Linked DNA regions of Homo sapiens. The protein of the gene in region 1 purifies or fractionates together with the protein of each later gene. This does not show direct contact. Each region holds a gene or a part of one and is shown on either strand. Other genes may lie near its edges.

Region 1 (3,958 bases):
GCGATACCTTAGCTCAAAAAACAACCCAAACAAACCTGGGAATGGACTGAACAGTCTCCATTTCAAGATTTCCTCCTTCCATTGGAATTAACCTGTTGGTTGCTTGTACTGGCATGTGGCAACCAGTCTTAGCCCAGTTTTAATAGATCCCTGTTTGGTGTTACTCAACAGAGAAGACCACTCGGCCCTCAGCCACCGAATAAGTTTAAGAAACAGAGGTGTGGCATGCTTCATTCTACAGGTAGGGAGGCTGAGGCTGGGGAGCCGCCCCTGGCTATCCCTGGAAACCCCTCTACCCCACAGGAATCGTCCCAGCCATCTCTTTAGCGTAAAGGTGAGGAACAAATCTCAGCCACGATCCAAAGAGGGGCGCCACCCCTGGCTGTCCCTGGAAACCCCCCTACACCACAAGAATCGTCCCAGCCACCTCTTTAGCGTAAAGGTTAGGAAGAAATCTCAGCCACGATCCAAAGAAAGCTTGGTATTTTTAGCACCAAGGCCAGAAGGAGCGTGTCCTTACTCCTTGGTTTACAAAGAAATAAAAACCTTTTCCCCATCCTTCTTTTGATTGAAGACTACCCCCGCCCCCAGGCTCCAAAGCCGGGCAGGAACGCCTCTTATCTCCACCACAGCCATTTTCCTAATCCTTCGCCCGCTCTCCACGGTCATCCCGTGTATCCCTCGAGACGCCGCCTCCCACAGCTCGTGCTTCTCCCAGGTTCGGCTCCGACAAGGCCAGAGCGGCGTCTGCGCAGCGCAACGGCTCAGAGCGCTCCCGGCGGCTACAAGTGCCCGGCCCCGGGCCAGGCCCGGCCTGCGCCGCGCACCCACTGGGAGGGCGCGGACCGGGGCCGCCCCAAGCCTCCGGCACCGCCCAGAGCGGGACAAAGGGGCGGGCCGGCGACCCGGCCTCGCGGTCCCCGGTGCCGCGCGGGCCGGGAGGCGGGGTGCGGTGGGGGAGGGGCGAGGCGGCTGGGGGAGGGGCGGGGCCAGGGCGGGCCCAGGCGCCCGGGGCCGCACCGGGCGGCGCAGGGAAGCGGCGCCCCTTCCTCGGCAGACGGCAGGCGCCGCGCCTCCGGCCCCGCCCCTCCGCGCCCCTCCGCGCCCCGCCCCCGCCGCTCGGACGGCCCGAGTCGCGCCCTCCCGCCCCGCGCCGCGGAACTTGCTCTAACTTCCTCGGCCGAGCCGGGCCGCGCCGCCGCTGCCGCCGCCGCGCGCGGGTGAGTAGAGCGCGGAGACCTGGCTGGGGCGTCGGGCCCTGCCCCTTTCTTTGTCTGAGGCCGACTTCCCCGAGCGTTCTCCGGGGGCGAGGGCTGCTCCTTAGGTCCCTGTTTGGCCCCTCAGCCTCCCTCCCCGCCTGCCCAGGAGCGGCCCCGCGGGCGGCGCTGGCTTTGTCTGCCAGGATTGCTCGCTAGAGGTTGGAGGCCTCCGCCGGGACCCCGCTGAGCCGAACTCCGGCGCCGCGCGGACGAGAGCCGCGGCGGGCCCGGGGCCGGCACTCCTGGTTCGGTAGCCCTCGCCCCATCAGCGCGCCCCGGCGAGTGCGCGCCCGTGCCGGGCGGGGTGAGGGCGACGGGAGCCTGGACGGCCGCTGCTGCTCGGGGCTCTGCTTCTCGTCCCCAGCAGCGAGCTCGGGGATGGGCCACCCTTTCGGCTCAGTCACCCACCCTCGGCTCCCAGGAGATCGGGTCCGGGGTGGGGGTGGGCGTAGGCCGGGGCGGGCCGCCCCTTCCTCCTGCCCCGCCGTGGTTGTGCTCAGTCTCCCACGCCGCCGTGGGTCCCACTCTGCCCGGCTTGGGTTTGGGACGGCCGGAGTTTGAGTAGGCGGTGACCCAGCTTCTCCGCGTTAGTCGTGTGGGGTTGTGTTTGGGAGCAAAGCCTGACCCCTGACCTAGCCGGAGTTCTGGTAGAGTGAGGTTTGTGGCTGCGGACTGTGCTTGTCCCGGGCCGCTGCTGCTTCTCCTCCACCCCCAGGGGTGGGGTGCGGGTGGGTAGGAAGTGCCTGTGTGAGGGTGTGTGGAGGGACTTTGGCCCTGGGACCGCAGGAGCACTTGTCTTGGGGACTTAAAGTTGATCTCCGGCGAGAAACAGTCCGTGCTAGGGGGAGTCGGGGGAAGTCGTGGGCCCGGGTACTGGCCTGGGGCTGGGCGCAGAGCGGTGGTGAGTGCGGCGGTGTCACACACTCGTTGGCTGTGCTGGCGCTGCTATCCGGGAGGTCAGGCGGTGCTGGGCGGCTGTGCAGAGCATTGTATTGGAGCCTCTGCAGGTGTGCTCTTGGCAGTGGTCTGCTCTCCAGGGGATCTTCCTCCCTTCCGAGAGGGAGTTGCTCTTGGGCTAGTGAGAGAGTGGCCTGCCAAATCCTCAAAAGTAGCCTTCCCCTTGCCCCTTGACCTTGAAGTCCAGAAGCAGTTAGTGCCTGCTGAGTGCTCCGGCCACCCTTCTCTATTTGTGAAGGGAAACCTGGGGACAGGCCATCGGAGCACCCCTATGTCCTTGCCACATTTCAGCTAGCCGAGTGGTTGGTGGGGGCGGCCGTCTTTCCAGGGATCTTCCTGGGCCCTGGCACCCCCAGAATGAAGCCCAGACTCCACCATAATGGCCCTGTATGCCCTTCTATCCCCTTAGCTGCTGGTGTGATCATAGCCTCAAATTGCTGGGCTCAAGTGATCCTCCCACCTCAGCCTCCCAAAGCACAGGGATTACAGGTGTGAGCCACCACGCGCAGTCTGATCCCACTCCGATCCCTAACGTTATAGTGACAGGCCCTGGAAACCCAGGGCCACCAGATGTATTTTCCCTTTCCTTCTCATTGTGTTGCACCCCAACTTCAGTTGGAGACTCTGGATATATCCATCCCCACATCTCTGAACTCCACTGCTTGGGCCACCTAATGTCATCCTCAGTTTAGTTAACAAAGCATGGTTGAGATTTCTGTGGGGTGCGAGGCATTGTTGCAGGCACTATTCCAAGTCTGGAAAGTCCCTCACCAGCTATGAACTTGGTGTGGTCTTAGAACCCAGGCTGGACATGGCATAGGTGCTCAGTAGTGTTTATTGATCTGAGCTTGATCTCAGCGTAGCAGGATCATTTAGGGAGACGGGGTTGTGGGGGGGGTCTGAGCCCATGGGTGCTTCTGAAGGTTTGTGGCTGCCCCAGGAAGAAAGGGCATGGAGCTGCAGAATGGTTGGCTGCCCAGGGAATTGTCCCCTTCACCAGCTGGGCAGCTGTGCTAGTCTCTGAGGACTGGTGAAGGTCCTTCTCATGTAGGAAGTGGCAGTATGAAGTGGGAGAGGAGATGGCTCTGCCCTGAAGGTTGTGGCGGCAGTGAAGTGAAGTTCCCATGGAGGCCGGGGAGCAGGAAAGCCCTGGGTTCTGGAACTATTTCCTGAGGCCTCACTCTATGCCACCATGTGCTCAGGAATTTGACCCATTTAACTTCAACTGAGGTAGAATTCCTTTTAGCAGTGCCTGCAAAGTGGCATTGTGCCAGGCCTGGGAAACCTTTGCTGGCTTAAAATTTAGTGAAGGACAAGATTATTTCATAGTGATACTAATGTGAGTTTATTGAGACTTACACCCTAGAAGTTTGACTTGTAATAACTCATTTAATCCTTGAAAACAGCTGTGATGGCTGGGCGTGATGGCTCATGCCTGTAATCCCAGCACTTTGGGAGGCCGAGGTGGGTGGATCACCTGAGGTCAGGAGTTCAAGACCAGCCTGACCAACACGGTGAAACCCTGTCTCTACGAAAAATACAAAATTAGCTGGGCGTGGTGGCACATGCCTATAATCCCAGCTACTTGGGAGGCTGAGGCAGGAGAATTGCTTCAATCTGGGAGGTGGAGGTTGCAGTGAGCTGAGATCGCGCCGTTGCACTCCAGCCTGGGCAACAAGAATGAAACTCCATCTCAAAAAACAAAAAACAAAAAGCAAAACAACCGTGATGTCAACAGCTCC
Region 2 (3,500 bases), on another chromosome or scaffold:
ACTTCCATTTGTATATGTTTCTCTACAAGCTACAAATGGAACATTAAATATGTCCTCAGAATTAATATGGAGTTACAATAGATTGTGTTTAAAGAAGCTAGTTTCATGTTTCTATTTTAAACCAGAGGTTCTCATATTAACTTCATATTTTGATAGCAAGTCTTTATTTAATTTTATCTGCCACAGAAAATATGCTTATTCAGCAGCTTCTGGTGGGCGACGAAGTGCTACGAAAGTAATGGTAGTTGTAACTGACGGTGAATCACATGATGGTTCAATGTTGAAAGCTGTGATTGATCAATGCAACCATGACAATATACTGAGGTTTGGCATAGCAGTAAGTGGCTTTTCTTTTCACTTGTCTTGCCGCTATTGGGTAAATCTTTCTTTATAGCATCACTTCTCAAGGCTGCACTTTCCCATTGGCTGTTCATAGTTGAATATAAAAGAAAGTTCTTACTCTATCTCTGCTTCTTGATGATTTTCAATCCTGTCTACTAAATAAAGGGTTATGGAAATGTTGCTTGATTTACTTTTCCAGAGGGAATATTGTGTTCAAAATAGGCTAGAATGTACTCATAGGGAAAATGTACAGCAGTAATGACTGCACATTCTCTTCCTCTATTTTCAAGGTTCTTGGGTACTTAAACAGAAACGCCCTTGATACTAAAAATTTAATAAAAGAAATAAAAGCAATCGCTAGTATTCCAACAGAAAGATACTTTTTCAATGTGTCTGATGAAGCAGCTCTACTAGAAAAGGCTGGGACATTAGGAGAACAAATTTTCAGCATTGAAGGTAAAAAAAATAACCTCCTTTCAAGAATTTTCTTCAAAATGTTTAAATAATTGTTTATTATCACATATTTGCTTTACTAATGTTAACTTGTATACCATGTATAAAAAGAGCTACTACAATCAGTAAGAGAAATGGATGAAAAACATGAATAAATAGTTTATAAATGATAAAATACAAATGACTGATAAACATAAGAAAATATTCCCAATTTACAAAGTATATTTCTAAATACTTTCAGTAAGTATTTAAAAACATAAATTAAACCGACAATATGTTTTGCCTAAAAGATGACACAGAATAATAATGTTTAATCCTGGAGAGATTATCAGGAAGCAAAGAAGCTCATACACTGTTGATAGGATGATAAATTGTTATGACTTTTGGGGGACAATGTATGAATATCTATCTATTAGAATCATAAATAGTTTTACCTTTTTACACTGTGTTATGTAAGTTCTAAAATTCTTGAATTTGTTTACAGTAAGCATATATATTTTTAAAATTAGAAAAATACAGCAAAGATTTTTAATAGTTCAGTTTTTGAGGAAGCATTTTATTTATAGGACCTAAAATAATTTACTTAGGTGGCCTTGGAAAATCTAGTTAGTGCAGAAAGATCACGTGTTCAGGAGCTCACTGTGTGGGGGACTAGCACACACTTCACAGTTGGTTAAAAGAAAAAAAAAACACACATCACCCAAATCCTAGTTCTTGATGGTTAACCCGAATAACTCTTTGCAATAAAGACCATATGTTATTGGAAACCTATGTATCAGGTACAGCCTTAGAGTCTGGGGCTAAAGGAATTGCATAAATTATTCATTCATATACTCAAATCTTGATTTGATTATCCATTGGAATTACCCAAAAAGCATTATTGCTTCTTCAGTATCCCATGGTGCTTCAAAGTTGTTTAAATAACCATTTAAATCCAGCATACCCTGAGATAACACAAAATCACTAGGCTATCCACACTGATAATTGTATTTGTTTGTAGTGGAATGAATGAGAACAATTGCAATCTACAAGCTAGCTAGAAATGATTTTGAGCATTATTTGCTATTATGGACTTTGGGGAACATTATTCTATTTTATTAAAAAGTATCTCTACTCATCCTGTGTAAATTATTTTATCTTCTAAATAAGACTATGTTGTACAGTACAGTTTGTCTTCTTTTCTATATTAAAGTGTGAGTCCAGTAATTTAGCTTCCTTTTGTGAAGATTAGTGAAACGTAGCCATTTTGATCACACTGTATGGAAAATAAGTACCAATTGCATCTTACAGTGTTAGTGACACAGGCAAGCACATATACAGAACCAGAACAAACTTCCCAATTGGTAAAATTCCTACTCAGTCTTGAATTCTGATTCCTAATAGCTAACTCAGTTATCTCCCAGCAGTCTTCACTACAGATCAATTGCCCAGCCCTTCCAACTGCATCTGAGATATGTGTACATTATCAGTACCCATATTTCAAAGCTAAAAATTCAGTTAGTTTCTTAGCTAGTAATGATCAAGTTTTTAAAAAATTATCATCTCAGTTTTCACCTTACCTTATACCCTTTGTTGAGTGTCCTTTGGTATCAAGAACGTCATACATATTCTGCTAAATACATTAATGTTCAATTAAAGTTAATGCCAACTTTGAACACTACCTTGGAAGTGTTGTTATTTCCATAACCTGCTAGAACACTTTCTTAGTAATTTCTTCTTCCCAGAATATGCAAGCTCTGTATTTTTGGGTGAGTATTGGAACAGTGTGTGTTTGTGTTTGTGTTTGTAGGCATGTGTGTACATACGTGCCTGCTTGTGTTTGAAAACTTGATTTAAAATTACTGACAGTAATACAATTTTTAAAATTGAATGTTCCAGGTACTGTTCAAGGAGGAGACAACTTTCAGATGGAAATGTCACAAGTGGGATTCAGTGCAGATTACTCTTCTCAAAATGTGCGTATATCAGATAGCTTCAAGCCATGTTGTCATTTGGCATAACACTTCCAGACACAGTAGCCTTATACATAAAATGGGAAGACAGCCATCTAGGGATCAGCCCTTCTGATTCCTAGTCACGGTCATTTAGTTTCTTTGTGCTGCTGATTTACCTCTAAAATTTGAAGGATAATAATGTCTTCCCTTCCCTGTTTCACAGGGATCTTATATGGGGGAAAACTGATAGTATACCAGAAAGTCTTTGAGTACCCCAGGGCACAGACTGTATATTAACTTAAGGTATTATTCCTGCAGGAATTTTCTTTGAATCAATTAACTACTGGAAATGTTTGTTAAAAACACGTACTCTTGTCATCACCGTCATGGTCGAATTCTGAATGGTCATAGTATCTTTTTCTAAGAGCAGACAGAAAAGAGTTGAAAAAATAAGGAGGTAGGAAAAACGTGAGGTGGAATTGGAATACAACACTGTCTTTTCAGCTCGGGGAAGTCTATTTCTATCTCTCAGAAACATCCACCTCCTGGGCCCCTGATTCTAATTTGAGTCAGGAGGTGAGAGAGATAGTGAAAGGAGGCGAAAAAAAAAAGAAAGAGATCCTGGGAATTATTTAAGGAACAGTAGGAAATCCCAGGATTTGATCGGCAGGTCAGAGGACCAAGAACAGCTTGTTTTCTATCTAGAATCAAAGGAACTGACTTTTTCTGGATCATCAATCCTTAGAGATGCTCATAGAAGTTATGGATCTT

The links. The genes of interacting proteins can lie anywhere in the genome.
Region 2: the proteins of TSPAN14 (region 1) and ITGA2 purify together in Homo sapiens (co-immunoprecipitation; one large-scale study listed by IntAct). This does not show direct contact.

Annotation. Positions count from the first base shown.
Region 1 is NC_000010.11:80,453,152-80,457,109, forward strand, and holds the start of TSPAN14 (tetraspanin-14), read left to right. Parts: upstream 1-1,158; 5' UTR 1,159-1,220; intron 1,221-3,958. UniProt on the Homo sapiens protein: Part of TspanC8 subgroup, composed of 6 members that interact with the transmembrane metalloprotease ADAM10.
Region 2 is NC_000005.10:53,055,352-53,058,851, forward strand, and holds part of ITGA2 (integrin alpha-2 precursor), read left to right. Parts: intron 1-186; coding exon 187-337; intron 338-632; coding exon 633-798; intron 799-2,673; coding exon 2,674-2,750; intron 2,751-3,500. UniProt on the Homo sapiens protein: Integrin alpha-2/beta-1 is a receptor for laminin, collagen, collagen C-propeptides, fibronectin and E-cadherin. It recognizes the proline-hydroxylated sequence G-F-P-G-E-R in collagen.